Regions from separate parts of the Homo sapiens genome. Here regions 1, 2, 3, 5 and 6 are each reported to be linked to region 4. The links are microRNA targets in miRTarBase. Many come from high-throughput screens and were not tested one by one. Region 4 holds a microRNA gene; each other region holds the end of a gene's coding sequence.

Region 1 (5,076 bases), not on the chromosome of region 4:
AACACTGAATTGCTAATTTGGTAAACATTTACTAAATGTTTATAATTAAGGTTTTTCATAGATAGAACATGTTAAAAATTTCTACTCACCTAGTTTTAAAAATAATCAGGAACAAATCCCTACTCAGTAATCATAGGAAGTAGAAAAAGAATACTACCCAATTGGAGAGGGTTCCACTTCAAGTGATGGTCAAGAAGTTCTTTCAGACCAACCTGCCAACATATGAAATTACAAACTCTGGACAAAATATTTAAAAATTAACTAACTGAAAGTAATAGAAAACAACCAAAAGCAGGTTGATCCTACAGAGGAGTGAATACTTAGAAGAAATAGCACTGGGTGAGTTTCCTATTTTTATAGTTCATAGCCTGAGGAACTCCTCACTCTGCATCATGTGGAGACTACAGTTGTATTGACTTGAAGAACACTAGGACACGTTTGGGGTAATGGCAACTGCTGGAAAACGCAGAGGGAAATCCTGATACGAAAAGAACCACAGAGAGAGCCCTAAATTCTGTGTATGACTCTGCTAAAGCTGGCTGGTCTCCCACGCATGCATGTACAGAAGAGATTTCAAGTACAATAGCCAGGTTAAAAAGCTGAACTAAAATCTGAGCTGCCACGAACTCTAGGGGAACCAGAGCTTGCAGCTGGCAGTTTGGCCAAGTTAACTAGCTGCTTTAAAAAAAAAAAAAAAAAAAAAAAAAAAGAAGCCTTTAGAGAAACAAATAAAAATCCAGGGTTTCTGCAACATTTTACTTACCATGTTCCAGACACAATCTAAATTACTCTACATATGAAGAAACAGGAAAATGTAACCCATTCTCGAAAGAAAAGAAAATTAGAGAAGACTGACAATGAAATGATCCAGAATATTGAAATGAATATTGAATATATTCATACATTAAAATAAGAATTTTGAAAATTGAATATTGAAATATCCAATACTGAAATATTGAATATTAAAATACTAAATATTAAAATAGACAAGTATTTAATATTGAAATAGAATACTGAAATGAGCCATCAAGTATCTTAGCTATTATAACTATGCTAAAAGGTGTAAGGAAAAATACACCAGTCATGAATGAAAAGATAATCTCAGCACAGAAATATAAATTATAAAAACTAAATAGAATTTCTAGAACTAAAACATACAATAATTAGAATAAAAGTTCACTGAATGGGCTTAAAAGAAAATGAGTACAGAAGAGTCAGTGAGTTGGACTATACAAATCAAGTGAAAAAAATCCAATTGAAGAAAAAAGAGAAAAAAAGGGATGAAAAACCAAGAGCTTCAAAAACCTGTGAGACAATATCGAAAGGTCTAGCATATTCATAAATGCAGTCCCAGGAGGAGAAGAGAAAATGAGATTGAAAAACAATATTTGATGAAATAAAGCACTCAGAGGAAAATTACATTTGTTCACAAGGGAAAAACTATTTGAACACTACTCTTCTCATTGGAAACAATGGAGGTCAGGAAACTGGAACAATATCCTTAAAATGCCAAACGTGGGGTGGGGGGAAGTTAATCTAGAATTATGTATTCAGCAAAAATATTCCTCAGGAAGGAAAACAAAATAAAGACATTTTCAGATTTTAAAATTTGTCATACTTAATTTCCAGCAGATCTGAACTATAGATGTTAAAGTTTTTCAGTTTGAAAGGAAAGATGCTACAAGGAAACTTGGATTTTTCAGGAAGAAATAGAGCATCAGAAATGATAATTTGGGTAAATATAAAAGAGCATTTTTTTAAATTTAAAATATATATGTCTGTTCAAAGAAAATTATAACATTATATTGTGGAGTTTATAACATATACGTAATACATTTAATAAGATAATGGATGGGGTGATAGGGTAAAGAGGCTTACATGGTTGTAAGTTTTCGATGTTTCATGTTATATAGTACAATATTATCTGTAAATAGGCTGTAAAGTTGTATATTTTGAACTGGGTTTGCTTTGCCCAGGTATACATGCATTTGCGGAGACTCATTGATTAGTACACATAAATTTTACCTCAAACAAAAAAGCTGGCCTGGCACGGTGGCTCATGCCTGTAATTCCAACACTTTGGGAGGCCGAGATGGGTGGCCCATAAGGTCAGGAGATTGAGACCATCCTGGTTAAGCAAGAAATGTGGTCTTACTATGTTGCCCAGGCTGGTCTGAAACTCCTGGGCTCAAGCAGTTCTCCCACCTTGGCCTCCCAAAGTGCTGGAATTACAGGCTTGAGCCACTGTGCCTGGCCTGGTTAACACGGTGAAACCCCATCTCTATTAATAATACAAAAAATTAGCTGGGCGTGGTGGCACGTGCCTGCAGTCCCAGCTGCTTGGGAGGCTGAGGCAGGAGAATCGCTTGAACCTGGGAGGCGGAAGTTGCAGTGAGCCAAGATCGCACCACTGGACTCCAGCCTGGGCAGCAGAGGGAGACTCTGTCTCAAAAAAAAAAAAAAAAAAAAAAGCTAAAAAAATGATCTCTAGCTAATGATTTGCAAGTTTAATTAAGTCTTTAGGAAGGAAGTTACGTCTCAAACTTATTTTTAGCTGTATCAAAATAATTGATGGATAGAGGAATAGATAAACATGATTTAGTGAATACAGTAAAATTTTAATTGTAGAATCTAGGTGGTGAGTAGGCATTCTCTGCAAAATAATTCCACTTTTCTATTTTAAAATTTATTTTATTTTTAAATTTTATTGACACAGGGTCTCACTGTTGCCTAGGCTGGAGTGCAGTGGCAATCACAGCTCACTGCAATCTCGAACTCCTGGGCTCAGGCCATCCTCCTGCCTCAGCCTCCTGAGTAGCTAGGACTACGGACAGGTATGTACCACCACGCCTGGCTAATTTTTTAGTTTTAAGTAGAAACGTGGTCTTGCCATGTTGCCCAGGCTGGTCTGAAACTCCTGGGTTCAAGCAAACCTCCCACCTTGGCCTCCCAAAGTGCTGGGATTACAGGCATGAGCCACTGTGCCTGGCCCCACTTTTCTATGTGTTTGAAATATTCCTAAGAAAATGTTGGAAAAGGAAATATTGCCAATCCACATTTATAATCAAGTCAGGGTAGAAAAATAAAATAGGAAAAAGAAAAAAAGTTAGGAAATTGAGGATACAAAAAAAGGAAAAGATATAAGCTAAAACAGAAGCAGAGAGAACTGGATGGTAAGAGACAGGTATGAAGAAAAACAAAGAAGGAAAGACAGAAGGAGGTAGACAGAGGGAGAGGGCAAAGTGTTAATCACTGAAAACTAGGCATGATAGTAAATAATAGTTATCACCACCCTTTGTCTTTTGAAATGTAATAAAGCAGTTTTGAAGTTAAAAATTAGAATTGTCATGGAATTCAAAATTGTGCACATGCAAAAATGATTTGGATATTTGCTTCAGAATCTTAGAAATTATTTACTATCAGTCTAAAAGTCCCTTAGACATTCAAAATTTGATTATCGTATGTCTTGTCCTTGAAAAATCTGTAGTACAACATTCCAGTTGTAATATTGACAACCACTTTTGACTAAGGGTCAGATCTGGAAGGAAGCCAGGATTCAATACCTCTAGTAAGGAGTTTTTACCTCCCTCAACTCCCTCCTCTAAACTAGTAGCTCAACCCATCACATACTATTTCATTCCTAAGGTTATGCTTTTTACTTGGAGGTCACTTTTAACTTACCATATAACTACACTGTTCTCTATCATTCTAATGCTGCATATTTTAACTATTAAATAATTGTTAATTAAGATATACTTCATATAGTTGCTCTCCATTCAGCAGATTTTTTCTTCTCAGTACCCAGTTATGTATTATCTGTGAGAGCAGGGCCCATGTCTAGTACCTCGCACAATGTTAACACATGTAAAGCCCTGGATAGACATTCACTGAACCAATGAGTAAAGAGTGTTTACTGTTCTTCACAATATGTCTTTCTCAATGGACTCTGAACGGGGATCATCAAGATTACAAAAATAGTAAAGTTTGCATAATCACACCACATATAAGCAAGCAAACATTTACCAGAGTTCTAATAATATTTTATTTTATTCCTATGAATGTAAATCATAAATTTTGATGTTTTAAAAATCCTAAATGGTTTAAAGGACTTACCGAGACTTGATTAACCCAGTTTTTAAAATAAAAAATCAAATTATAAATTTATATTATAAAAATAACTGCCAGTTTTGCATAGTAATATAGTAACAAATCAACACTCTTCAAAGTTTAAAGGAAAAGGAAGCTGGTATTGGTTTCTGTCTGAAGTCAGATCTAACTTTTACGAAGACAATAGTTTCAGATCAGAATCAAATAAATTTCAGAACTCAGTTTGAGAGAAAAGGAAAAACTTTAGTTAAAATCTTTACAATAAAATAATTATGACTATAAATCTCTTTAGTTAAATATGTACACATTACATGGTATTTGTATAAAGAATGGAAATGGATAAAGTTTTTCAGGCAAATCTAATGCACAAATACACCATCTTTTAGAGTATAATGTCAGTTTATCATTCGTTAACAGCTGTGTTAGACAGTGGCTCTGCTTTGTGCAAAACGTGATAAACAAAATTAGGAAAAATTCTGCAAAATTATTTAGTTCCCCAAGGAAATTACTAAAATAGAAAATGGCAAAAGAAAAAAAGGTTGCACACTGAAGCTTGATTGTATACTCAGGCTACAATGACCAGCACTGATGTAACCCCCATATCTGCTAAGTCCTTGGGTAGCTTTAGTCTGAAGTAAAAACTGAAGTCCTAGCAATTGTGCTTTTTATGCAGCCACATGGCCAATAAGGTAGATATTGTCATAAAGATGCCCTACAAAATCTTCACTAATATTTTGAGCAGCGCGACGGGTATTTCGAATAAATTCCCTTTTTGACATTTTATTCTTCACATGAGGGCTAGTGAGGTCAATGGAAAGTAGAATCAAAGAGTAGCACAGTACATAGACAGCATCTGGAAAGAAAAAGAAACAGTTCAAATTATTAGTTGGTTTACAAAATATGATTCCAATGGCATTATATAAGGCAAAAATGTTCATAATTTCAAGATATCAAGATTAGCTCATAAAT
Region 2 (5,076 bases), not on the chromosome of region 4:
GCTTTTAAAAATTATTAAGGAAAAATAACTTTAAAAGAAGCTGTTTTGGGGGAATATTCTGTTTTTTTCTATTAATACTTTCCTAGAAAGCAAAATATACTGCAAAATGACTAAAGCCAATTCTTGACATAACTGCCATAGTTAAAATTTGAGATTCAGAGTAAGAAATATTTTCCCAAATAACTGAGATAAAGCCTGATAACACCAATACAATTGTTTTGTTCAAAAATTTATGTCTCAAGAAATGATGTCTCACATGTAAAATCTAATGCAACACAGAGACAAGGGAAGGCACTGTGACCATGACAAGGGTGTACTAGCAACACTAATGAAAATGAGGTGTCTTCTCTTCTTGGAAAGCCACTAGAAGAACTTGCATGTACATTTGAAGAAAAATGATGCAAGCCACTTGCCCATTAACAGAGCCCTTCTGGTTTGATTGCTGTGACATATTTGATATTTTTACAATTAACCTTTGATTTGGACTACAATAGAAAACTATGCATGCTTTTTCTTCCATTGTAGGTTCCAATGCCACATGGCCTTTGCTATTTCAGATTAAGTCTTTTAATTTTGGAAACATTTTCACTGATGGCACCTATTCTACGGCAATGTATGTAACTTGCAACTCATCATTTATATTTAAATGGTAGAACCATTTATTTCTTCAGAAAGGACTTTAGAAATATTCTAAACTTTGAGATTTTTTTTCCACACAGAAGGATGCTAGCTGTCTAGGATCTTAATACCAAACTATTAACTCTATGAACACCCACATTTCAATATATAGTTACTGATAATCTGGAAAGACTTGCTGTTGTTTTAAGCCATGTGAGACAATTACAGGAAAAGTTCATTTGCTTTGATAACTGTGTTCTCTAGGTATTTTGGGTGTCTGTGTTTGTTCATGTCTATCTAAGATGAGGGCCTTGGAATAAATAGGATTCTCTCATGATAATCTCAAATATGGTCATCCATCATATCCTATAGTCTCATAGATGTAGAATTAGCAAAACTACATTTAATAGTAAGCACACACCATAGACGAGATTATCTTTCCTGTCCTCTGAAGTCAAGACTAACATGAGTTTGACCTTTTGTTAACCTGTTTGATCATTTGTTAACCTGTTATAGAAATACATCAGCTTGCCTTCATGAAACTTTTTATCTATATCACATAATCTACCTTAAGCACATTGGTAGAATGTTTGTTAAAAAATAGCCATGCATCTCCTCAGATTGGTCATATCTAACAGATATGACTAAAACGGTCACTCTACACACTCTCCAGCAAAACTGGTGTAAGTCTGCTTCTTCACTTAGCTTGCACCACTTCTAATATAACACATAACTGACTTGTTGATTGCATTTCCCAACATCCTCCCACCATCTTTAGAACGTGGCCTCCACAAAGGCAGAGATTTTTGCTTTTGGCCATTGTGTTACTTCAAGTGCTTAGAGCAACCTCTGGCACCTAGTAGCACTCAAATGTTCACTGACAAAACAATGTGGCAGATGAGGTCAGAGACACAATGGGATGGGATATGGAATAAATCATCTCTGGGCTTTGTGGGCCGTCTTCAAGTTCTGAGTGAAACAGGGGAGCCACTCCAGGATTCTAGGCAGAGCAGTGCTGTAACCTGACAAAAGTTTTAAAAGCATCGCTCTGGCTGCTGTATTGAGGATGGGCTGTGGTGGGCAGGGGTGAAAGTGAAAAGACATTTATGAAGCAAGTACAGTAACTGGATGAGGAATCATAAAGGCACAGATTAGGATGAAAGTGGTATAAATGGTGATATGTGGTTGAATTCTGGATTGTTTTGAGGGGAAAGCAAATAGTATTTCTTGACGGACTGGATGTGGGCTGAGAGAAAGAAAATCAAGGGTGACAACAAGGTTGTTCTAGCTTAAGCAACTTGAAGAATTGTATTGTCATCAATTGACTTGTGAAAGTTTGTGGGAGAAATGTTTGAGGGTAGGGTGAGCTGTTTAGCAGTTCAGTGTTGGACATGTTATGTTTCAGATGTTTTGTCAGGCCATCACCAAGGGATGCCAAAGGCAGGTGGATCTGTGACTAAAGTTCAGGGGTGTGGGGAATTACATATGAATTATATAATTATATAATTCATTATATATAAATGGGATGCAAAGTGAGTGCAGAGAGGAATAAGGCCCAAGTACCCTGCAGTTAAAAGGAATGAATGAATTTTATCACAGAACTAGAAAGAATCTCAGGTTCTTCTCAGTTAATAAATGTCCTGAAGGAAAAAAAAAATCATTATCTGGTGATGTTACTTTATGAAGGAAAGGTAAGAGAACAAGCAAATTATGAACATAATTTAAAGATAGAATTTATTCTCTGATGGTTTACTCATGCAAACTGCACATAAAAGAAAATAGTACAGTTTGTGTAACATTGCAAATATAAGGACTGAAAATGCTAGGTACAGAAGTAGTATGACATCCTGAAAGTCAAAATGGAATTTGTGTTTATACAACTAATAATGATTTTTATTTGCTCAGTACAGACTGATTTACAATGAAAGTTTTGCTAACCTTGGTAAGCTTGTTAACCGTTTACATGACTTCTTACATCTATGTAGTTTTATTTTACAGTTGCAAGAATTCTGTTACCAAAGAACCTTAACTTGCATAAGTAATAAGATGAAAGAAAAATGTACTGAAGGACTTAAGAGTGAAAAATTGAGGCTTTTCCTAACCCATTCAAACTACAATAAAAAATAGCCTTCTTGCAGAATTCATATTTTGTGCCTTTGAGATAACTCCTTAGAATAATGATATCAAAATCATGATTTGAAAAACTGATTACTTTAAAATAATGAAATTAGTTAAAAATTAAAAATTTAAAAAAAATTATCAAATAAAAATGCTCTCATTTTAAAAAGCAAAACAATAAAATTCCCATTATCTTCATACTTAAAGTCCTGAAATGTCATTTATATAATTTGAATGTTTCCCAGTTTGGAACTTAGGCAGGAGGGATATTTCCTTGAATTATCAAGGATATTCCATACAGACTTTTAAAATGTCAGTCTCATTAGGAGATGGCACTGAGACTTTAGCAAATAGTGTAGTATGGATGCAGGACAAACTACACAACTTATTATAAATGCATTACAGATATTTACATAGTGGAATCCTGCTTGAATGCCAGAAGTTGCTACTGGGTAGGACTCATAACTATTTTACAAAGTTTTCTTACGCACATCTACTACTTTTAAAATTTTATGTTTAACAATTTATTCTATTTTAAAATATGTACTGTATTTTGAACATAACTGCAGAATAAAAATAGATAATGGCACATTAGAAAACTAAGTATCCCACAGATGATTGGATAATGAGAAAAATGTACCTACAATCATCTCATCAGAAACAAGCTACATCATGGAATGTTAGTTATCCAAGCCTGCACAATAATGACATTTTAAACTGCAATCATCTATTGGCCAGCATCACACTGAAGGCATCGTTAAACATTCAAGCAAAGATTGCTGGCATAAACTATTAAAAGACACACACACACGCGCACACACACACAGATACACACACACTCTCTCTCATTCATGCACACTTCCCACATTATAATTACATTGTTCTAAAGATAGATACTGATTTTTTTTTCCACGAGAAACATTATCAAAATTTGCTACTAAAAGATGACAGTGCTTTCACAAGAATAGTACAAGTTAGCTCGCAAGTACAAGACAATGGGGGTAAACAGTCTTAAATTTTCTAAGTAGTAATTTTAGGCTTTTCTGGCAACCATACCATACTTAATTATGCATAAACTTTGCAGTTTGTAACCTGAAATCTGTAAAAACAACAACAAAAAAACCAAAAACAAGAGCTAATTTCAAAAATTATTAGATATTTGATAACCCTGTATCATACATTATATAATTTCATATTTTTAGCCTCAAAACATAGGTGTAAAATATTGAATTTAAGACTTGAAAAATAAAATCATTTTTGAAATGCTGAAAATTCTAAAATTTGTTTACTTAAAATCTTAAATAAAAAAGGAAAATGATTATAAATGACCTTGATTTAGCTTAACAATGTGCATAAAAGCACTGTATGTCTTTACCATGTTTTCACTCACTTAAAAAAAAGTGTTCTTTAATGTTTTTCCTTTTGCATAATGTGCAAAATAAAAGGCAAAAAGATTAAAAGCAAATTTCTATCTTTCTCTTGCCTAGTGCTTTTATGACTCCGTTAACATTACAAAGTCAACAGGGACTATGCAAAACTTTGGTATAAATGATAATACTACTACCGTCACAGTTGAGGGTTAAGGGGTGGTCAAAAGAAATGGAAGTGGGAAGAAAGATTCAGTAACACCCCCATTTATTAAAACACCAGCAAATTAAAAGTGAAATAAATCACAATGAATTATAATACAATTTACACATTGAGCACAGAAAAATTAATAAATCTAATAATATTTATAAAAAAAGCAAAATCAGTCTTTTTCCAGAGACTAAAAACCGTTTTTCAGTCTGATCAACTGCTGCTACACCAACTTTAGAGCCAAATTTAATTTCAAGTAAAAAAAAAAAATTTACAACCACAGATTTCGCATAAATGGAAACTGGTCTTTCCTTGATTTCCCTTTGAAGTCACTAATGAGTATCTAAAACTGTTGTACTGCAGGTTTTTAATCAACTTCCTGAGGGCTGTGACTGGGAGGAAGGAGCCATAACGATCTGTGAAAGAGCAGGCTCTGTACTCTGGTCCGCCATCTGGGTGAGGACTGAAGTGGCTACAGCTTCTGCCTTGGAGGTTGAACTGACTCCATTGGATGTGCTGACCGAACTATGCTGTATAGCTTCTGTATGTGGACTACTCGGCACTGAAATGTCTTCTGAACTATCATCTTTATCAGCAGCTGGGTGGAAAAAAGAAAAATTATTCATTTTCCTAAAATCGGTAAGAATGCACCAGTATGCTGAGGCAATACACAGAGTAAAAAGTTAGAAAGTATCTTACAAAACTGATTAGACAAGTTGGTATTACAGCAATTGATATAGGTCATGAAGTAGGCAATTTTAC
Region 3 (5,076 bases), not on the chromosome of region 4:
AGGAGAAGGCAGGGGTTTTAAAGAATGACTCCAGCCAGATGGAAAAGCACGTATGAAGCATCAGGAGGGAAGCTTCTCATAGTAAATATAAACTGTAAACTGACGTTTTAGCTTTTATGCCCCGTTCTCTTAAGAGTTAGGTTAGCGTTAGTCTTTTGGGGCCCAGTCACCTCTTGATATAGTGACAAAATTGGTCCTATGCAGCTGAGGATGAGATCAGCGAGCATGGTGGGTCCCTCAAGCCAGTGCCACCCATCTGTATGGTCAAGCAGGTCTTCCCGGACAATACTCCCTGCTTTTTTTTTTTTTTTTCGGCATGTTATTTAAACCACAGCAACATTTCTTATTTTGTGTGAGACAGTTTATTCACAGTGGATTGAAAAGAGGCTCAATGTTGTTTTGAAATAGGATTTTCTTAAAAAAACTGAACATCGATATTCTCCACACTATCAGAAATGTTCTAGTAAGGGCAGATGGAGATGAGGCACGTCCACTACCCAAACAGGGATTGCCGGCTTTACCCCATGTCTAATGCTGTCTTCTGCATAAGCATTTCGCATTTGTGCTTATTCATTTCCACTCACAATATTAACCCGAATTCACACCCTGGACATCATCTGCACATATAGCGTGCGCGCGCACACACACACACATACATACACACAAACACATACACACACACACACAGCTAGCATAGCAACTTACCTTTATAGGAACACTTCTGGGGCTGTCTAGAAGATAATACAATATACGTATATGCAACATGAGTCACCCGCCTCTAACACGAATCCCTAAATCTACAATTGTGTGCTCAAATAGATATTCCTGGCACTTGTCATCACTTTGCATTAGTTTTGTGTTTTCTGTTATTTTATTCTGTAGTTTCCAATGACTGGTTCATTTTTTAACAATAGCGAACAATTACACAGTGCTTCGTTTATCCTACACACTGTTCCAGGTGCTTTAGGCAAATTAATTAGTTGTGACAACAACCTAACGTGGTGCATGCTATTATTGTCCCCGAAGCTCTTACACAGGTGCGTTTTGGAGGTGGGGTTCCCACCCTGGCACCCAGAGCTCACCCACTTTCTCTGCCCCCTTTTGCTCTATCATCACCTGGGCCACCATTCCCATGACCTTTGCATATCCTCGGAGTGTTTCCTGTGGCTACTGGCACCCAGAGGACCTCAGTGTGTACTTCTTTGCCTAATGTTGTGCAGGCCCTATCTCGGAATGTTCCATTCCAGATCCCTCCACCATGGGCTCATTGTGAAATAAACAATGCATGGCCACTAAAGCAGTTCTTTGAAAATGCAGCGTCAACACACCCACATTGACAGCAATGCAAAGTCACTGAAATTTTCTAGAATGACATGAGAAAAAATCCTTATAGATAGTCTTTTCCAATGCAAACTTCTCTTTTAAACACTTTTATTAGAAAAGTTTGCTAGTAAGGCAGGAAAGTAACTTTTAGATTTTTATGAATGAGGGTTTGCTTTTTGGAACCCTTTCAAATTTTGATAGCCTTAAAAAACTACTCTTATTTAACAAAGAGAAACAGCCAGCGGTAATCTGGAGCTTGGAGTTGATATGAGAATGGCTATTTCATCACCAGGTAATTCCTCCAGGTCACTGAATGGCTATTTCATCACCAGGTAATTCCTCCAGGCCACAAGTGAGGCCCATGGAGTAATACAGCCTGTGATTCCCTCCGTCACCCTTCACATTGATTGAAAATGTATCTTCAAAGACAGACTCAGAAGCTCTTTTGATGCTTTATTGACAATTTAAGTACAATCTTAGAGTTGTCAGATAATCTCAACACACTTCAGAGAAAAACAGACTTTTTCTGCAAAGACTTTATTTCTATTTTTTGATACATTCATATTTTGTTACACCCTTCCTGTGCAAATAATACTGTGATTCATGTTCATGTGTAGTGGATGATCTTGCTTTTTTGTTTTTGTTTTTTTTTTTTTTTTGAGACAGAGTCTCACTCTGTTGCCCAGGCTGGAGTTCAGTGGCGTGATCTCGGCTCACTGCAACCTCTGCCCCCCGGGTTCAAGTGATTCTCCTGCCTCAGCCTCCCAGGAAGCTGGGATTACAGGTGCCTGCCACCACGCCCAGCTAATTTTTGTATTTTTAATAGAGACGGGGTTTCATCATCTTGGCCAGGCTGGTCTTGAACTCCTGACCTCGTGATCCACCCACCTCGGCCTCCCAAAGTGCTGGGATTACAGGCATGAGCCACCGCGCCCGGCCTGCTCTAACTTATTTTAAGAATCACTGTTCTATTCTGGAAAGGGAAAAGACCACCACCAAGAAGGGAAAGGAGACCATGCTGGACAGCCTAATAGTCTAACAGGGGATCCTAGGGTGCCTGAGCTCATGGGAGCAAACCTTGTTCAGGCACCGCAAGCCCAACGCAGCATGCAGATTGGGAAGGCGCAATAATGCAAACACCATCAGGAAGAAAGCTATGGATGATGGAAAACACTGTGTGCTCCACGTGACAGAAGGGAGCCACCTGATTTGTCGCATCGGGCCAGTGTAAGGAAGTGTAATTTAGTGGGACTGCCAGTGACACTAAGTCAGGCCTTGATCAGGGTCTGGACTCAGTATGGACACGAGCCACTGGGTGCAGGGGGCTCATGCCTGCCACCTCTCTTTTTTTCCCTTACTATAGAGACTTTGATCTGTCCACCATTTCTATGTGAGCTTTGGGCTTCCTGTCACAGGTCTGTTGTCACCGTGGGGCCATGTTGGAGTCGGTAGATTTTCAGACAGTGAAGCCACATGAAGCTGTGAATGCTGATGTGGCTGCTGCAGAGCCCAGTCTCTCCCCGGTGCAGGGCCTCTGAGACGACGGGACTGTCCTCAGATGGTTGGAAGAAATGGGTTATCTTAGGCAGTTAGGAAAAGAGGGACAGGTGTCCCAGGATGTGGAAAACTTGAGTTCATCCCCTCTCTTCCCTCCAGCAAGGATTTCAGTGCTACATCTAAAAAGAGAAGCCCTGTTGCCGATTTAATAATTTACAGTCTCTAAATCCAAAAGGGCCTCCATGTGCTAGTGAGACTCATGCCCTCAGTTATGTTCACGATCTTCCTGAGAAGTCAGACAATACAGGTAGAACAAAAGATAGTGGTTGTACTTTCTCTTCTGCGTAGTGTGGGTAAGAGCATGCGGTTTGCCGCATGCAGTGTTGTTAATCTTTTGATTGTGTTGTGAATGGCTGAAAAAAAAGCTGAAAGTTTGATTGAACTGAAATCCAATCCATGTCAACATAAGGAATATTCTAGTGAGTTTACTGTCCTAAGAGAAGGTCTCTCCTGGGGAACCCCTGGTATGCAGAGCTCCCTGGGACTTGCAGATTGGACAGAGAGGGTGTGCCAAAGGGGTATAAACCCTTCTGATGGAGAGAGTCGGGCGTGTCTTCATTTTGGTAGTTCTGGAAAGGCTCCTCTTTAAAGATTCTGATTTAATAATGTTCACTTTTGTTAAGATTGAATATCATTTTGAAATCATTTCTAAACGTGTTTCCTTTATAGGCACTTTATCTATTAAATTTACAGTGGAGCCAAATGTATTAGCAAAATCTCCAAGTTGCAAAATGAATACTCAGAATCAAACTATAGATTTTTTGGTGATACTTTCAGAAAAACAATTTCTTTCTAAAGTTGCAAATCATGAAAGGGAATGAAAGTACATTAACTTGATTTCTTCCCTGTAATTCAAACATTCAACATTCAAATTAACTTTCATAATTTCTCACTTTGTGACAAGTTGATTTACGCATAGTTGGTATTTCATTAATGCGATTTATATAGATGGAATTCTTAAGGATAAACAAATGTTTTTGACTATTGCCTGGGGTTCTTTGGGAATAGATGCTTTCTGAAAATTTAAATAAGAACATTACTGTTAAAGCCATGAATCTAGTTTGGAGAACCCACTGCAGTTCATTTTACAGAGAAACACCTTGTCAATGGCATCTTCATGGTGTTTACTGAAGGTAAAAGGCAGGATATTAAATGTGAGAACTCTCTCTCCAGCTACTGATTCTGCCTGTCTCGAATTCAGGTGAGAATGACCCATACAGATACATGGATTGCACTTGAATCTGTGCTCTGGTATTTGTGTCATCCGGAGGCTGAGAACGCCTGTTGGTGGTGTCGCAGATGGCTCTGCTGTCTTGTGTGGACAAACTGAAAGGGATTCAGGAGCTTCTTCTGTAATTTTACTCTGCTGTTTTTCATGGACATAGTGAAAGGGATCCAGGAGTTTCTTCTGCAATTTGGCTGTAGTTGGACTTTGAAAAAAACTTGAAGAGTGTGTGTGCGCGCGCGCGCGTGTGTGTGTGTGTTTGAAAAGAGAATTAGAAAATGAAGGTAGACACTGGGTATGCTCCCCCAGGATGTGGCGATGGGGCGCCCGGCCGCCCTGGCTACACGTCGAACCAGTGGTCCCCCATGCAGACGCGGTTCCACTCGCAGCCACAGTTCCAGCACCACTCGAGCCTGCACTGGGGCTGCGGACACTTCATGTGCATGCAGCCTCCTGTTGGGGGCAGAAAACAAAGGTGTGGTGGGTTCGCAGCAAGTACCTGGAAAACACGCATTCCCAAACCAGCACGCTAGCCTAGACATCACTTTCTGAGCGAATAATCACAAGCAATACAAGGGCAGAGAGAAACTTAACTGAGGGGAAAAACTTCATAAAGCACAATAGGGCAGCTCTAAAGTGATGATATTCATTAAGAAATGAATGAAATTGAAGCATGTCACTTTTGTCGGGAACAAATTTTATTTGTAAATCTGACTTTATTCTCCTGAAAGGGGATTTAGAGACAAACACTTCATGTTTCATAGATAGGGGTCAATTCCTCATTTAAATATATTCAAATATTAATATATTTATATTTAAAATATATAAATATATTTTTATATATTTATATTTAAAATATATATATTTTTATATATTTATATTTAAAATATATATATTTTTATATATTTATATTTAAAATATATATATTTTTATATATTTATATTTAAAATATATATATTTTTATATATTTA
Region 4 (5,076 bases):
TCCCTCTTGGCTTCTATCCCACCAACCCGGGAATGGAGGGGGAGGGAGGCGTGGGCTTGGCGCGTTTTTGGTGCTTTGAATGGAGAACTCCGTTTCCCATGATGCTTTGTTTCTTTCTCTTTAATTTCGGCGGCGGCTGAGGCTGCACGAGGACTGGAGCGCGTGGTGTGAGCAGCTGGAGCACACCCTGGACGCGCGGGCTGCTCGCGGACTTCAACGGGAGCATTAGGTAAGGGTGTGAGAGACGCGGGAAGAGGCAAAAGGGAGCCACAAAGGCGTACAGGGAAGGACTTCTTTCTTTCTTTTCCTTATTATTATTATTATTATTTGCAATTTAAGGGGATTGGAGAGTGACTGCCCAGCGTGCGCGAGGGATGCCAGATGAACCGCTAATTAGCAAAAGGTAGTAACTAGAAGGGCGCCCTGTCTGATGGCTGTGGGGCTCAGTTTGGCCAGGTTGGGTTGGCAAATACTATGCATTTTGAGTCAAGTTTGGAGTATTTTTTTTTTAATGGAAAAGAAATCTTCACAGGTGTAGAAACCCAATTTAAGGGGAAAAATGTTATTTTTCTCATTTCTATACTAAATCCATTCTTCCCTAATAGAAAATTGATTCCAGATTGATGTATAAGTTTTATAAATCAGTTTAGTTTGTAAAGACTTCTAAAGACTCATTTAGTGGCATAAGATATCGTGACGAAAGTTCAACATTTAAAATTCCCTCACTCGTTTAACGTATTACAGATTCTGTCCCAAACGTTTTTGTTTTTCTTTTAAACAAAAGTTACCCCATCATGGAAGAGATAGGGGACCCTGTGAGCCTTTTTCACATAGAGGCTCACTTCCTTGCTGTATGTTCTTAGGTAAAATAAGCACTTGGAAATGGGAGAAGGTTTTCTTATGGAAGATAATGACATGAAGGGAAGAAGAGCTAATCTGCCTACTTTGGTTTAATGGAGAAAATGGGTCCATAAATGTTTAAACAGAAGTAGAGCCCTTTGAAATAGATCAAAATGTGACATCTCTCAGCCATCTGTGCATTATGTGAAGACTGTAAGGCTGTGTTTCTTAAACCAGCTCTAAAATTTCTCTCATTTTCTATTAATGGGGTGGGGGCTGGGAATATTCATTTAATCTAACAGTCACTTTCCGTATGGAGCCCAAAAGCTCTGAATGATCTGAAGACTCGAATACTCATCCTGGGTTTTACATGCTCCTTTCTCTAGGTCCTCCTCTTATAAAATCAGGGTGGATAGAATGTGCCTGCAAATTACTGAGATGCAGATATCAAATTTTCTTAGATGGAGAGGGGGAGTCCAAAATCTGCTTATACATAAGAATTGGACTTTTTGCAGTTGCCAGTGTTATTCGTGTTCAATTCTGTGTAAATAATTGAGATTATTAATATTTCTCAGGATTTGGTTGAAACCACAAAACCTAGCTTAGACTCTGTAAGCCAAAGGAAAGCCTGTTTCAGGAATATTAACTAGTAGTTTACTTGTTTAGTTTCTAATATGTGTGTGTTTGTTTTGTTGTTTTAACCAGGTGAGTCTGCATGGATCTGTGAGGACGGAAAAGAAGAGCTCCTGGAAGACTTAAAATTTTGCTACAGGAATAGGCCTTGGCCATGTAAAAGTGCTTACAGTGCAGGTAGCTTTTTGAGATCTACTGCAATGTAAGCACTTCTTACATTACCATGGTGATTTAGTCAATGGCTACTGAGAACTGTAGTTTGTGCATAATTAAGTAGTTGATGCTTTTGAGCTGCTTCTTATAATGTGTCTCTTGTGTTAAGGTGCATCTAGTGCAGTTAGTGAAGCAGCTTAGAATCTACTGCCCTAAATGCCCCTTCTGGCACAGGCTGCCTAATATACAGCATTTTAAAAGTATGCCTTGAGTAGTAATTTGAATAGGACACATTTCAGTGGTTTGTTTTTTGCCTTTTTATTGTTTGTTGGGAACAGATGGTGGGGACTGTGCAGTGTACAGTTGTGTACAGAGGATAAGATTGGGTCCTAGTAGTACCAAAGTGCTCATAGTGCAGGTAGTTTTGGCATGACTCTACTGTAGTATGGGCACTTCCAGTACTCTTGGATAACAAATCTCTTGTTGATGGAGAGAATATTCAAAGACATTGCTACTTACAATTAGTTTTGCAGGTTTGCATTTCAGCGTATATATGTATATGTGGCTGTGCAAATCCATGCAAAACTGATTGTGATAATGTGTGCTTCCTACGTCTGTGTGAACACACCTTCATGCGTATCTCCAGCACTCATGCCCATTCATCCCTGGGTGGGGATTTGTTGCATTACTTGTGTTCTATATAAAGTATTGCACTTGTCCCGGCCTGTGGAAGAAAGGAGGATTTTTATCGTCTTCTTATTTTAACTTTTAAAAGCCGTAAGTTCTGATATTTAGTCATTGTAAAATGATCTGTTTTGCTGTTGTCGGGTGGATCACGATGCAATTTTGATGAGTATCATAGGAGAAAAATTGCACGGTATCCATCTGTAAACCGCAGGACCTTTGTTGGCGACATTCCTGATCAGCGCTACAGTAAGCTAGATGGTAAAAAATCCTTTCTCTAGTTGCTGCTATTAAAAAATAATTTGAAATATATTTGGATTTCTAAAAACTATGATAGCTAATTTATAAAGTATGTGTTTTGGAACTTTGGTGAATGATCAGATTGTTACTGAATGTGAATGAACCTCAAAATAAATGAAATTTATAGATCTGAAAAAATGACTCTTTTTTTTTTAAAAAAAATAATTAGCAATGCTAGAGGAGTTTGTAAAATATCTCTTGGGAGGATCCTAAAGGAAAACTTGGACATAGCTGCTTTTCAAGTTTGCATCTACATAAAGCACCAAGATGCCTAATTTTAGGAATTTTATTACCCTGACAATATTTGGATGACATGTACTAATTTTGTTTTAGTACACGTGCTCATTCTTAGGAAGGGAATGAAGAGTTGTAAACCAATGGGACACATACCTTTAAGGAACTGGGCACATTTTGAGGTCTGACAGGAGAGAAGAATGAACTTGTCAATCAAACTCTGTTTTGGGGTTCTCGGAGAAGAGGATTTGGTGGCAGGGCTACTGAGAGGGATGGCTGCTGCCTTGCTTTGGAGTCTAGCAGATGGAAACCTGGATGTGGGCCTACTGTTAATATTTAGGGTTCGGGGGCTCCATAGGGTGACTAACCTAAAGCAGAAATTTCTCATGCGCAGCTAATTAGTGGTTTGAGACTGAACACCAAAAGTTATTTGGATCCTCTAGTGGTTCTTAAAACTTTAGCACTTACTAAGACACAGCCAGCCAACCCCATCTCCAGAGATTCATTCAATAGGTCTGGATGGGGCCTAAGGAATTGCATTTCTTTATTTTTTTCTTTTTGAGACGGAGTTTCGCTCTTGTTGCCCAGACTGGAGTGCAATGGCCCGATCTCTCATTCACCACAACCTCCACCTTCCGGGTTGAAGTGATTCTCCTGCCTCAGCCTCCTGAGTAGCTGGGATTACAGGCGTGCGCCACCACGCTTGGCTAATTCTGTACTTTTAGTAGAGACGGGGTTTCACCATGTTGGTCAGGCTGGTCTCGAACTCCTGACCTCAAGAGATCCACCCACCTTGGCCTCCCAAAGTGCTGGCATTACAGGTAAGGAATTGCATTTCTAACCTTTCCCTAGGAGCTGATGCTGCTGGTCAAGACACCATACTTGCAGAACCACTGCTCGAAAACAGCTAACGACAGCTTCTAGGACAAAGTTAACAAAGGAAGTTGTTTATTTTAAACTTCATAAAATTAAAAGAACTCGAAGCAGGGACTGGCTTGCTTTCCAGTTCTATGTTTCATATTTTAATGTTAATCTTTAACATCATGTATTTGGCAAATGAAGAAACGAGGCTTGTGGTAGTTTTACTGTCTGCCAACATGAACATTTAGTTCTCATCAAAAAGGTGCTGCCAAACTAAAAGATGGTATCAGTATGTGTCATTCTTACTTCCTGGTGCCATGGAATTTTCTAATTTTGAAACCCTTTTGATTTTTCCTCATAACATCAGTCCATTTTAATCAGTAAGAGGAACTCTCTCTGAATTGCATTTTAATCTTGAGCTAGTTGCCTAAGGCTTCAATTTCCTCATTAGGGGAAATACAGTGATAACATTGGTCTACCTCAAGGATATGTGGGTTAAGTAAGTTCTCTGGTGGTGGCGGCTGGGGGGATGGATTTTAATTGTTAGTGATGAAGTGAAATCTTAATGAAAAGAGACTTAGGGTAGTAAATTCTGTCGTCCAGTATTAAGTATGTGTGTGTAATTTTTTAAAAGTGACTAATGCTTGAGGCAATTATACAAACATAAATAACTACAGGTATTTCCTGTGTTGTCTAGTGCTGACTACGTTGTTGGTGCCTAATCATAGTTAAGTTTGATGTGGCAGCAAAGAAAAGGGTCTCCCGCCCTTTAATAAAGTAGCTCAGTAAAAGAGGGGATTAAAGCTTATTTGTTGTAATCCTTAACACCACCAAACCTCCACTTTAATAATACAAATTTATTGTCCTAGTGGTTCACTGGTGCTTTACCTAACGTGGCTAGTATGCAGTCAGTTATTGCAGTTTCCACTTTTAATAGGCTTGTGTGGAGGAGCTGTGTTCCTTAGGGTAGGCCACTCTGCCCACTAGAGTCAATTCCCTCACCTAAAGTTAGGGCCGAACTTGATGATCTGAGGACCCTTTCTAGCTTCAAAAATTCTGATTCTATATTTGCTCAAGTTAGACTAATCCAATAATTCTTTTTTTTTTTTTTTTGAACATTTCATCTTTTACTTTTTAGGACCAACAGACTTGATAACAGCCTGATGCTGATCTGACAATGGGTTGACAGCCTTCCCCCACTGGCCCTTAAGTCTGCTTAATAATAAGTCCTTTGCTTCTGTCATTCTCCTGGGGGATGGCCTACTGCCCTCCTTTCTGTACAATCTGGGCAAACCGACTGGTGATGGCAAGAGTGGTGTCAATGAAGTGGTCTACACAGCTGGAGAGACAATTTTCAGTGCAAGAGTCCAG
Region 5 (5,076 bases), not on the chromosome of region 4:
GGCGCCTGTAGTCCCAGCTCCTCAGGAGGCTGAGGCAGGAGAATTGCTTAAACCCGGGAGTTGGAGGTTGCAGTGAGCCGAGATCACGCCACTGCACTCCAGCCTGGCAACAGAGCCAGACTCTGTCTCAGAAACAAAAAAAAAAGACAGAGTCCTGTGGAATCAGACATTTAAAGATTGGGGAGAGAGGGAAACCAGAGGGCTGAGGAATTGCTGAAGTCTTCAAGAGGAAGGCTCAGCAGCAGAGATGACATGGTGAGACTGGTGCCAGGATGGAGGTCGCATCAGTGGACAAGGGTGTCAGCAAGTGAGTGGCAATGCCCCATGCTAGGAGCCCAGGTGACTGCCATCGGATGGGAGAGGCAGGTTCAAGAACGCTGGGCTCTTAGCTCCTCTACTCCCCATCTCTCGAGCCCAAGATTTCCACCTTGCTTGTTTCTGTCCTGTCAGAATTAGAAACATGTGATATAGTAGCTCTTAATTGGGGGGTGGGGGCATGGCTCCCTTCGAGAATCCTATAAAAACTATAAGCCCCTCTCATTAGAAAGTGCACATTAGCCCATGCCTGTCCTGTTGTCTGCGCAGTTCCCCTTGCTAGGACTCAAACTCGGTCTTCCTGCCATTACTGCCTCTAATCCTGCACTCATGCCCTCCCTCTCGTCCACAGAATCTTCTTTTCTTTTCTTTCTTTTTTTTTTTTTTTTGAGATGGGAGGCTTGCTCCTTTGCCCAGGCTGGAGGGCACTGGTGCAGTCTCGGCTCACTGCAACCTCCACCTCCCAGGTTCACATGATTCTCCTGCCTCAGCCTCCCAAATAGCTGAGATTAGGTGCCTGCCATTATGCCAGGCTAATTTTTGTATTTTTAGTAGAGACAGGTTTTTGCCATGTCGGCCAGGCTGGTCTCAAACTCCTGACCTCAGGTGATCCGCCCGCCTCGGCCTCCCAAAGTGCTGGGATTAGAGGCATGAGGCACCGCGCCAGGCCCTTTTTAAATTTTTTTTAAAGAGACGGTGTCTTGCCCTGTCACACAGGCTGGAGGATACAGTGGTGCAATCTTGGCTTACTGCAGCCTCGATCTCCCAGGTTAAGGGATCCTCTCACCTCGGCCTCCAAAGTAGCTGGGACTACAAGTGTGTGTCACCACGCCTGGCTAACTTAAATTTTTTTTTTGTAGAGATGGTGTCTCAGTATGTTGCCCTGGCTGGTCTCAAACTCCTGGGCTCAGCCCAATCCTCCTTCCTTGACCTCCTGAAATGCTGGGATTACAGGCGTGAGCCACTGTGCCTGGCCAATAAAGTCTTTGAGGATGAAGAATTTTAGCCAGAACCTGAAGGATATATCTGGCTCTATTTAGATTTGAAAATATATAATGTCTCAAGAAAAACAAAACAAAACACCTCGCTGAAGCAAACAGGGTTAGTGTGGCGATATATGGGTGATTTTTTTTCCTTTTCTCCTAAAGACTTTCATTCATGGGACTGTCCCTGATTCCCAGCCATCACGGGGAGGCTCTACCTTCAAGTGTTATCCAGAATCAGACCACCTCACCTCATCTACTGTGGCCTCCCTGGGATGGGCCTGGCCTCCTTCAGTCTGTTCTCACCACAAAGCCACCAGAAGGATCCTTTTATTTTTATTGATTGATTGATTGATACGGGGTCTGACTCTGTCAGCAGGCTGGAGTGCAATGGCACGATCTCACCTCACTGCAACCTCTGCTTCTTGGACTCAAGCAATCCTCCCACCACTGCCTCCTGAGTAGCTGGGACCACAGGTGCACACCACCACACCCAGTTAATCTTTTTGTATTTTTGGTAGAGATGGAGTTTCACCATTTTGCCCAGGATGGTCTCAAACTGTTAAGCTCAAGCAATCTACCCACCTCAGCTTCCCACAGTGCTGGGATTACAGATATGGGCCACCACGCCCAGCGCCTTTTAAAAGTGCAGTTGGATCATAGCATTTATCTGCTCATAACAATGGCTTTTGCTTCCCCGCTCACTCAAAAGAAATTCCTTCTTCACTGCAGAACTGCCCCTCCTACCACAGGATGTTTAGGGTTCCTGGCTGCAACCCCCAAAGGTCCTAATGGTGCTGGTCATGGGGGGATCCACACCATTGTGACAACGAAATATGCCCACATGATGCCCAAGGCTTCAGTCCTGGCCCCACCCTTCCACTGTGTCACTGTGCTGGGTTGGTTTTCTCATCTAAAACATGGTGATGGGGATAACAAACTTGAAAGAGTGTCATGCAAATGAGGTGTCCAGCATCGGGAGGTGTCCAGCATCAGGAATATTAATAAAGGGTCCCCAGTGATACCGGCCGAGGCATAAGCAAACTCCACTGCTCCTATTATCTGCACCTGAAGATTTACACCTTGCATATATGTGGATCCTTTTCCAATTTCTTCTGTATTAAACATTCTCTCCTGTATCAGAAAGTCAGGTTATGGGTTGGAGCTACAAATCTGCCCTTCGATCCATCCCCCCCATAGAGTGCTTTGCTGGCCGTAAGGATGGACTGCAGACAGCAGCTCCCTTTGAGGCCGCCCCCAGCTCCTCTCTTTCATAGCGGGCTGTGTGAATCAAGCTCCAGCACTTCTACTGTGTGATCCTAGATCAGTGTCTGAACCTCCCAGAGTTTCCTTCTCTGCAGATGGATGTGCCGATAGCCCCTGCTACACAGGGCTGAGCTGAAGGGGAAATGAGACAGTGAGAGCAAAGGGAGCCTGGTGCCAGGCATGTACCGGGCATTCAGAAGTGGCTAACCATGGTAGCCTGTCCCTAGTCTAAAGCCCTGGGCACCATGCCCCCACCTCCACCCCCTCAGTTCCTTCCCGCTTGACTTCAGGAGCTGGATTCCCTCCTCTTGCCAGAAAAGTCCAGCTCATACTGCCTACGGCACAAATTCTCACACCAACCATTAGGTTCCTGCCAGGTCCTGGCCAGTCCCAACACCATGAAGCAGGAGGGCAGGCGAATTTTGAGCAGAGAGACTGTTTCTGTTTGGCATCAGCCTCTGCCAATGCCCAGGAAAGCTGGAATGCTCTCCTACAAGAGTGACAGTTCCCCACACACTAAACATTCTTTTTTTTTTTTTTTTTTTTTTTGAGACAGAGTCTTGCTCTGTCGCCCAGGCTGGAGTGCAGTGGCCGCCTCCCGGGTTCAAGTGATTCTCCTGCCTCAGCCTCCCAAGTAGCTGGGACTACAGGCATGTGTTACCACACCCAGCTAATTTTCTTTTGTATTTTTAGTAGAGACGGGGTTTTGCCATGTTGGCCAGGCTGGTCTCAAACTCCTGACCTCAGACGATCCACCCACCTCAGCCTCCCAACGTGCTGGGATTACAGGCGTGAACCACCACGTCCGGCCAATTCTGTCTTTTGATGGAACAACAGAGGCTTAGACTCCAGGCTCCAGTTACTTTTTTTTTTTTTTTTTTTTTGAGACAGGGTCTTACTCTGTCACCCAGACTGGGGTGCAGTGGAGCAATCACAGCTCACTGCAGCCTCAACCTCCCTGGGCTCAAAGTGATCCTCCCATCTCAGCCTCCTGAGAGACTGGGACTACAGGTGTGCACCACCACGCCCAGCTAATTTTTTTTTTTTTTGTATTTTGTTTCGCTATTGCCAGGCTGGTCTTGAACTCCTGAGCTAAAGCAATCAGCCCGCCTCAGCCTCCCAAAGTGCTAGTGCTAGGATTACAGGTGTGTGCCACCACACCTGGCCAGGCTCCATTTAATTCTTTTTTTTTGGAGACGGAGTCTCGCTCTTGTCGCCCAGGCTGGAGTACAATGGTATGATCTCGGCTCACTGCAACTTCTGCCTCCTGGGTTCAAGCGATTCTCCTGTCTCAGCCTCTCAAGTAGCTGGGACTACAGGTGCCCACCACCACGCCTGGCTAATTTTTGTATTTTTAGTAGAGACGAGGTTTCACTCTATTGGCCAGGCTGGTCTCGAACTCCTGACCTCAGGTGATCTGCCCACCTCAGCCTCCCAAAGTGCTGGGATTACAGGTGTGAGCCACCATGCCTGGCCAGCTCCATTTACTTCTTGAGAAACTCATGGTTCTCTTTTTAGTCACTTTGGTCACAGAGAGATTATTTAACATCGTTTAATAAAAAAGTAGTAGTGCAAACAGGAAAGTAGCATAAAAATATAGTGTTGTTGTGGAAGGCTGGTGCTTGCTGCTGAGAAGCTGAAGCCAGAGGAGGCCAGGTGTGAGGAAGGAGGATTCTTTAAAGGCAAGAAGAGAGAGGCCTGCCTTTAAGAGCCAAGAGAGCCGCTCATCCATGACCCCAACACAGAGCTCTGTAGAACTGCTGTCACACGCCAAACACCAACATAAGGGGGTGAGAGAATGAACTCCAGCCGCTTCTCCCAACACAACCCAACAGAGCTATTCTGGGACATGTGTGTTTGCGAGCTTGTGTGTGGAGAGCACCAAAAAGCTCATCAGCAGCCCCAGGCCTCTGTGCGGTCTGGTTTTCAGACTGGCACCCGCAGGCAGTGCATCTGAAGCACCTTCTAGTTACTATCCCCATCTGGAATCTTGGTTTTCTCCATTCCATGTCACCTTCTATTGCCAACCCAAGGGTGCCAGTGCCTGTGGGTCTCATTATATGATACTCTCTTCCAGGACTGAATCCGCTAGTCTGGCCAAAAAAAAAGCACTCAGCCACATCCTACTCCCCAATAAATGTCTCTGGGGTCTTCATTTTCTCTTCCGGCTGATCCTCAGTTCATCCAGTTCCTTCTCCATTAAGTGGGATTCAGCAGTGGACTCTGAAAGCTGAAAGTGAAGCAGCGGCTGTTAGCAAGCAGCACATTTCTAGGAAATGTTTCGGGTTAGCAAGGCCGGCCCTACACACGGAGGAAAGGCCCCCTGCCACTTCTCTGATGCTGCTGGCTTCCTCGATGGGAAACCCTCTGTAACTGGGTAGAATGCAACCCCTGATGACCCAGGACCACAAGTACTTGAAGAATATTCACAGTCCACTCTGTCAGCACGCTGTCACCCACGAGGGCATGGCACTCCCTGCACGAAGGAGAGCAGGTCTCAGAGGACGTCAAA
Region 6 (5,076 bases), not on the chromosome of region 4:
CTAAGTACAGAAAGATGGAGGGATTAGGAGGGGACAAATGATTTTTGGATGGATTGCAGATTTTTCCTGTTTTGATACTTGTTTCACTGTTACAAAAAGTGTATTCTGTATTTTATTTCTGTGTCTTGTAGACTAGGCACAGTTCTTTCCCTCTTTGACCCACGCAGGAGCCTTCCCTGGTCTGTCCTTTTCATTACTTCTGTAGTTGGGCACTGTCTAGCTTCTTGAGCTACACTAGCTTTTCCTTTCTTCACATCGTAGAACTGTGAGAATTGACCACTGTTGTTGTAAGCTAAATGATTTTGGACAATATAGCGGAATTTTAGTTCAGAGGACTAGTATTTTCTGTCTATTGTTAGACATAAATTTTTATTAAGCTCTTGGTTTGGTCTCCCTTTTCCTTAGGTGCTGCTACATCCTCATCCTCCTCTTCACCTTCATCCAGTTCCATAACAGCTGCTGTTATGTTAACTTTAGCTGAACCGTCAATGTCCAGCGCATCACAAAATGGAATGTCAGTTGAGTGCAGGTGACAGCAGGACTTGCTAAAGCACTTTGCACTTAATGGCTGTTGAGGGCCACTTTTTTTTTATACTGCACAGTGGCACAAAAAAATATCAGACAAGCACTATTTTATATTTAAAAATTGTTTCTTGACAAGCTGACTTGGCACTTAAGTGCACTTTTTTATGAAGAAAAAGTACAATGAACTGCTTTTCCTCAAGCAATAATTGTTTCCAACTTGTCTGGGAATTGTGTGTCTGGTAACTGGAAGGCCTTCCACTGTGGCAAATGGAGGCTTTTCACTGCCTGTAGAGACAATACAGTAAGCATAGTTAAGGGGTGGGTCAGAACATGTTAAGATAACTTACTGTATATGTATTCCCTTGTATTTTGTTAAAGCTGGAACATTTGATATTTTTCCATTTATTTATGAAAAAATATGAACCTATTTTCATTTGTACAAGGTAATTGTTTTTTAAAGCAAGTCACCTTAGGGTGGCTTTAATTGTATAAGTCAAGCACATGTAATAAATTCAAAACCTGCAGTTAACAGGATATTAGACATCAATCCTGGTAACCAAATATTAAAGATTCTCTTTAAAAAAGACTGAACATGTTTACAGGTTTGAATTAGGCTAAAAGGTCTTGCAGTGGCTTTTCATGGCCCTTCAAATTGGAATGGAACTACTGTACTTTGCCATTTTTCTATAAATCAGTATTTTTTTTTAATTTTGATATACATTGTGTGAAAAAAGAAAATGGCTAATAAACTGTATTAAATCTTAAACAATGTATAAAGATTGTACTTAGCCAGTTCAAAGTGTATATTTATTCATAATGAATTATAACAGTTATATTTTTGTGTTTTCTTGTAAATGTTTCTTTTCCCTTAAATACAGATAATTCATTTGTATTGCTTATTTTATTATGAGCTACAACAAAAGGACTTCAGGAACAAGTAATGTATTAGTATGGTTCAAGATTGTTGATAGGAACTGTCTCAAAAGGATGGTGGTTATTTTAAATATAAATAGCTAATGGGGGTGGTAGGCCTATAAAATTAAATGCCTTGTATAAAATCCAAAATGAATGCAAAATTGTTTTCACTTGTATTGACTTTATGTTGTATGATTCCAATCTCTGTTCTGTTTGGCACTTGTATTTAATTCTTCACCTTTGTAAGACATTTGTATATTGTGGATGTGTTCATTCAAGCTATTTAATATCTGGCACTGTTAATACACAGTACTTTATTGTACAGACTGTTTTACTGTTTTAATTGTAGTTCTGTGTACTTTTTTTGGATGGGGCTGGCATGTTTTCTTTGTTTCCTGGCAATACGACGTGGGAATTTCAATGCGTTTTGTTGTAGATGCTAACGTGTCAGAATCCTTTACATTCAACTTTTCTAAGAAAAGCATTTTCAGTCTTGTAGTGTGTGCTTACAGTAACTAATTTTGTTGAAAATGGTTTCAAGTTATTCAAATTTGTACAGGACTGTAAAGATTTGTTGACAGCAAAATGTTGAAGAAAAAAGCTTATAGAATAAAAGCTATAAAGTATATATTAGGATCTGCAAACAATGAAGAATTATGTAATATATTGTACAAATGTAAGCAAAGGCTCTGAAATAAAATGCCATAGTTTGTGAATCCTTGATTTTTGTTTCTAAAAGATTTAGTAATTTTAGTTCATTTCTGTATGTGATGACTGACTGGAACATACATATCCAGCACGTATTATCACAGGGGATTAATTGATACACAAAAAAAGGAAGATTCTACCTATGAAAATTAAAAGTCCATTAATCAGATAAGGAATGTATTAGGCATTCTTTTTTTTTTTTTTTTTTTTGGACACGGAGTCTTGCTCTGTCACCCAGGCTAGAGTGCAGTGGCGCAATCTCCAGCTCACTGCAACCTCTATCTCCCGGGTTCAAGCAATTCTCCAGCTTCAGCCTTCCGAGTAGCTGGGATTATAGACATCTGCCAGCACTCCTGGCTAATTTTTGTATTTTTAGCAGAGACGGGGTTTCACCGTACTGGTCAGGCTGGTCTCAAACTCCTGACCTCATGTGATCCACCCACCTTGGCCTCCCAATGTGCTGGGATTACAGGCGGGAGCCAACACACCCAGCCTAGGCATTCTTTTATCTTTGCACACACTATTTTGCTTGAGTCTGAATTTAAATATTTTTCTTATCACTTGAAGAATTGTCCAAATTTGAAAATTAAGTGTTTTTTTTAAAATTTATTTAACACTTGAAACCATTACCAGCGGCTTTTTAAAATTTTTAATTTAGTTAGACCTTTCCGGGTCTTTTATACTTCAGTGTGTTCTATTGCACATTGCAATCATCTGGACATTGTTAAAAGTATATTCAGTACTCACACCCCACTCCCAAGGAGTTATATTTAATTGGTTGGGGGTAGTACCTGGATGTTGATCTTTAATTTTTAAAGGTCTCTAGTGATATTAATATGCATCTGGGTTGAGAAACACTGCTTTGCCGCAAACTTCTAAAAATCTATAATCTAGTTTTTTGGCCCCACTTATTGGACTTTCTACCAACAGAAAACCTTTCTTGGCTGGGCGCAGTGGCTCAACGCCTGTAATCCTAGCACTTTGGGAGGCCGAGGCAGGCGGATCACGAGGTCAAGAGATCGAGACCATCCTGGCCAACATGGGGAAACCGTATCTCTACTAAATATACAAAAAAAAAATTAGCCAAGCGTGGTAGTGGGCGCCTGTAGTCCCAGCTACTCGAGAGGTTGAGGCAGGAGAATGGCATGAACCTGGGGGGCGGAGCTTGCAGTAAGCCGAGATCGTGCCACTGCACTCCAGCCTGGGCAACAGAGCGAGACTCCGCCTCAAAAAAAAGAAAACCTTTCTTTAATACAGAGAGAGGCCGGGCGTGGTGGCTTAATGCCTGTAATCCCAGCACTTTGGGAGGTTGAGGTGGGTGGATCACCTGAGGTCAGGAGTTCGAAACCAGCCTGACCAACATGGTGAAACCCTGTCTCTACTAAAAATGCAAAATTAGCCGGTCATGGTGGCGCATGCCTGTAATCCCAGCTACTAGGGAGGCTGAGGCAGGAGAATCGCTTGAACCTGGGAGGCGGAGGTTGCAGTGAGCCAAGATTGCACTCCAGCCTGGGAAACAAGATTGAAACTCCGTCTCAAAAAAAAACAAAAACAAAAACAAAAACGAGAAAGGAAATCAACTTTTTTAAGGCCTAGAAAGCTTAAATACATATTTTTTAAAGCATCTTTGTGGTGGCCCTTTATTTTCACAAAAATTAGTTTAAGGGATGATATTTTAAATCTGTGGAACGGTGCTTCCCAAAATGAATTCCTAGAATACTGGTCCCTGGAAATGCTCTGGGAATTTATAACCAAATATATTTTGGAAAATCTATGTATAGCACATTCTTAGAGAATCACAGTGTTTGCATATTAAAAACTTTGAGAAGGCCTGTGAAGAGATACCTGCCTAATAACTTCCTTTACCCTACTGTTTTCAATCCCACCTAATCATGAAACCCTGTTTTTTGAGGAGCTCTTAATATCACATACTGAGTATGTTATAGAAACAGTGCTGAATAGGGGAATTATTCCAAATTTTGGTGGAGTCGAGATTTATGACTTTGTGCCTCTCTGTCTCGCCTGCCTTCTTGTTCTACGTCCTACCTTCTTAAGAGGGTTTGAGGATTTTATTGAATTAGTAGAATTGACCTATGTCTACTTCTGGTCACCTAAACTAGACTTTACTAAGTTAGTTTACAATTGACATATTAAGATGGTATGTTTTTCTTTTCTTTTTTTTCTTTTTTTGAGACGGAGTCTCACTCTGTTGCCCCAGGCTGGAGTGCAGTGGTGCAATCTTGGCTCACTGCAACTTCTGCCTCCCAGGTTCAAGTGATCCTCCTACTTCAGCCTCCCGAGTAGCTGGGACTACAGGCACGTGCCACTGCACCCAGCTAATTTTTTGTATTTTTAGTAGAGAGGGGTGTTTCACCGTGTTAGTCAGGATGGTCTCGATCTCCTGACCTCGTAATCTGCCCGCCTTGACCTCACAAAGTGTTGGGATTACAGGCATGAGCCACCGCGCCCACCCAAGATGATACGTTTCTTAACGGTGTTCTCCAAAACGTTTTTTTTCCTACTGAAAAAACTTTAGAGTGGGGTCTTGTTAATTTCTTTTTTTTGTTTGTTTTGTTTTGTTTTAGACAGAATCTCGCTCTGTCGCCCAGGCTGGAGTATAATGGCGCCATCTTGGCTCACTGCAACCTCTGCCTCCCGGGTTCAAGTGGTTCTCCTGCATCAGCCTCCCGACTAGCTGGGATTACAGGCGCCCGCCACCATGCCTAGCTAATTTTTGTATTTTTAGTAGAGATGGGGTTTCACCATGTTGGCCAGGCTGATCTCAAACTTCTGACCTCAGATGATCCACCCACCTCGGCCTCCCAAAGCGCTGGGATTACAGGCGTAAGCCACCGCACCCGGCCTCCTTTTGTTTTTTTGAGACGGAGTTTCGCTCTTGTTGCCCAGGCTGGAGTGCAAATGGCGCAG

The links. The annotated mature microRNA hsa-miR-19b-3p reads UGUGCAAAUCCAUGCAAAACUGA and lies in region 4 at 2,193-2,215, shown strand. An mRNA with a match to its seed (bases 2 to 7 or 8) in the 3' UTR can be bound and repressed. Matches are read on the target gene's strand: a 7mer-m8 pairs with bases 2 to 8, a 7mer-A1 pairs with bases 2 to 7 and ends in A, and an 8mer does both.
Region 1: the mRNA of FBXO8 is a reported target of hsa-miR-19b-3p. Seed matches in the 3' UTR shown: 8mer at 4,549-4,556.
Region 2: miRTarBase lists ATF2 as a target of hsa-miR-19b-3p. Seed matches in the 3' UTR shown: 8mer at 4,167-4,174.
Region 3: miRTarBase lists PRKN as a target of hsa-miR-19b-3p. Seed matches in the 3' UTR shown: 8mer at 1,905-1,912.
Region 5: the mRNA of CBY1 is a reported target of hsa-miR-19b-3p. Seed matches in the 3' UTR shown: 7mer-m8 at 4,134-4,140.
Region 6: miRTarBase lists ARID4B as a target of hsa-miR-19b-3p. Seed matches in the 3' UTR shown: 7mer-m8 at 555-561.

What each region holds. Positions count from the first base shown.
Region 1 is chr4:174,232,640-174,237,715 of GRCh38, forward strand. FBXO8 (F-box protein 8) reads right to left here. Exons shown (of 6, transcript NM_012180.3): 6 at 4,019-4,960. The coding sequence ends at 4,773. Among named protein-coding and RNA genes, the nearest start is that of LINC02268, 15 kb to the left of the region's middle.
Region 2 is chr2:175,069,924-175,074,999 of GRCh38, forward strand. ATF2 (activating transcription factor 2) reads right to left here. Exons shown (of 14, transcript NM_001880.4): 14 at 2,336-4,912. The coding sequence ends at 4,686. Among named protein-coding and RNA genes, the nearest start is that of CHN1, 67 kb to the left of the region's middle. RefSeq lists a silencer at 1,224-1,424.
Region 3 is chr6:161,345,654-161,350,729 of GRCh38, forward strand. PRKN (parkin RBR E3 ubiquitin protein ligase) reads right to left here. Exons shown (of 12, transcript NM_004562.3): 12 at 1,764-4,558. The coding sequence ends at 4,446. Among named protein-coding and RNA genes, the nearest start is that of AGPAT4, 74 kb to the left of the region's middle.
Region 4 is chrX:134,166,822-134,171,897 of GRCh38, reverse strand. It overlaps MIR19B2 (microRNA 19b-2), which reads left to right and starts at 2,132; the gene lies at 2,132-2,227. MIR106AHG (miR-106a-363 cluster host gene) reads left to right here. Exons shown (of 2, transcript XR_007068340.1): 1 at 1-229; 2 at 1,546-2,748. It overlaps MIR363 (microRNA 363), which reads left to right and starts at 2,446; the gene lies at 2,446-2,520. It overlaps MIR92A2 (microRNA 92a-2), which reads left to right and starts at 2,286; the gene lies at 2,286-2,360. It also overlaps MIR20B, MIR18B, MIR106A and the pseudogene TIMM8BP2.
Region 5 is chr22:38,672,877-38,677,952 of GRCh38, reverse strand. CBY1 (chibby 1, beta catenin antagonist) reads right to left here. Exons shown (of 5, transcript NM_015373.4): 5 at 4,103-4,794. The coding sequence ends at 4,717. It overlaps TOMM22-DT (TOMM22 divergent transcript), which reads left to right. Exons shown (of 2, transcript XR_007068097.1): 2 at 1,464-2,437. Among named protein-coding and RNA genes, the nearest start is that of TOMM22-DT, 6.4 kb to the left of the region's middle.
Region 6 is chr1:235,163,982-235,169,057 of GRCh38, reverse strand. ARID4B (AT-rich interaction domain 4B) reads left to right here. Exons shown (of 24, transcript NM_016374.6): 24 at 406-2,156. The coding sequence ends at 533. Among named protein-coding and RNA genes, the nearest start is that of RBM34, 5.3 kb to the right of the region's middle.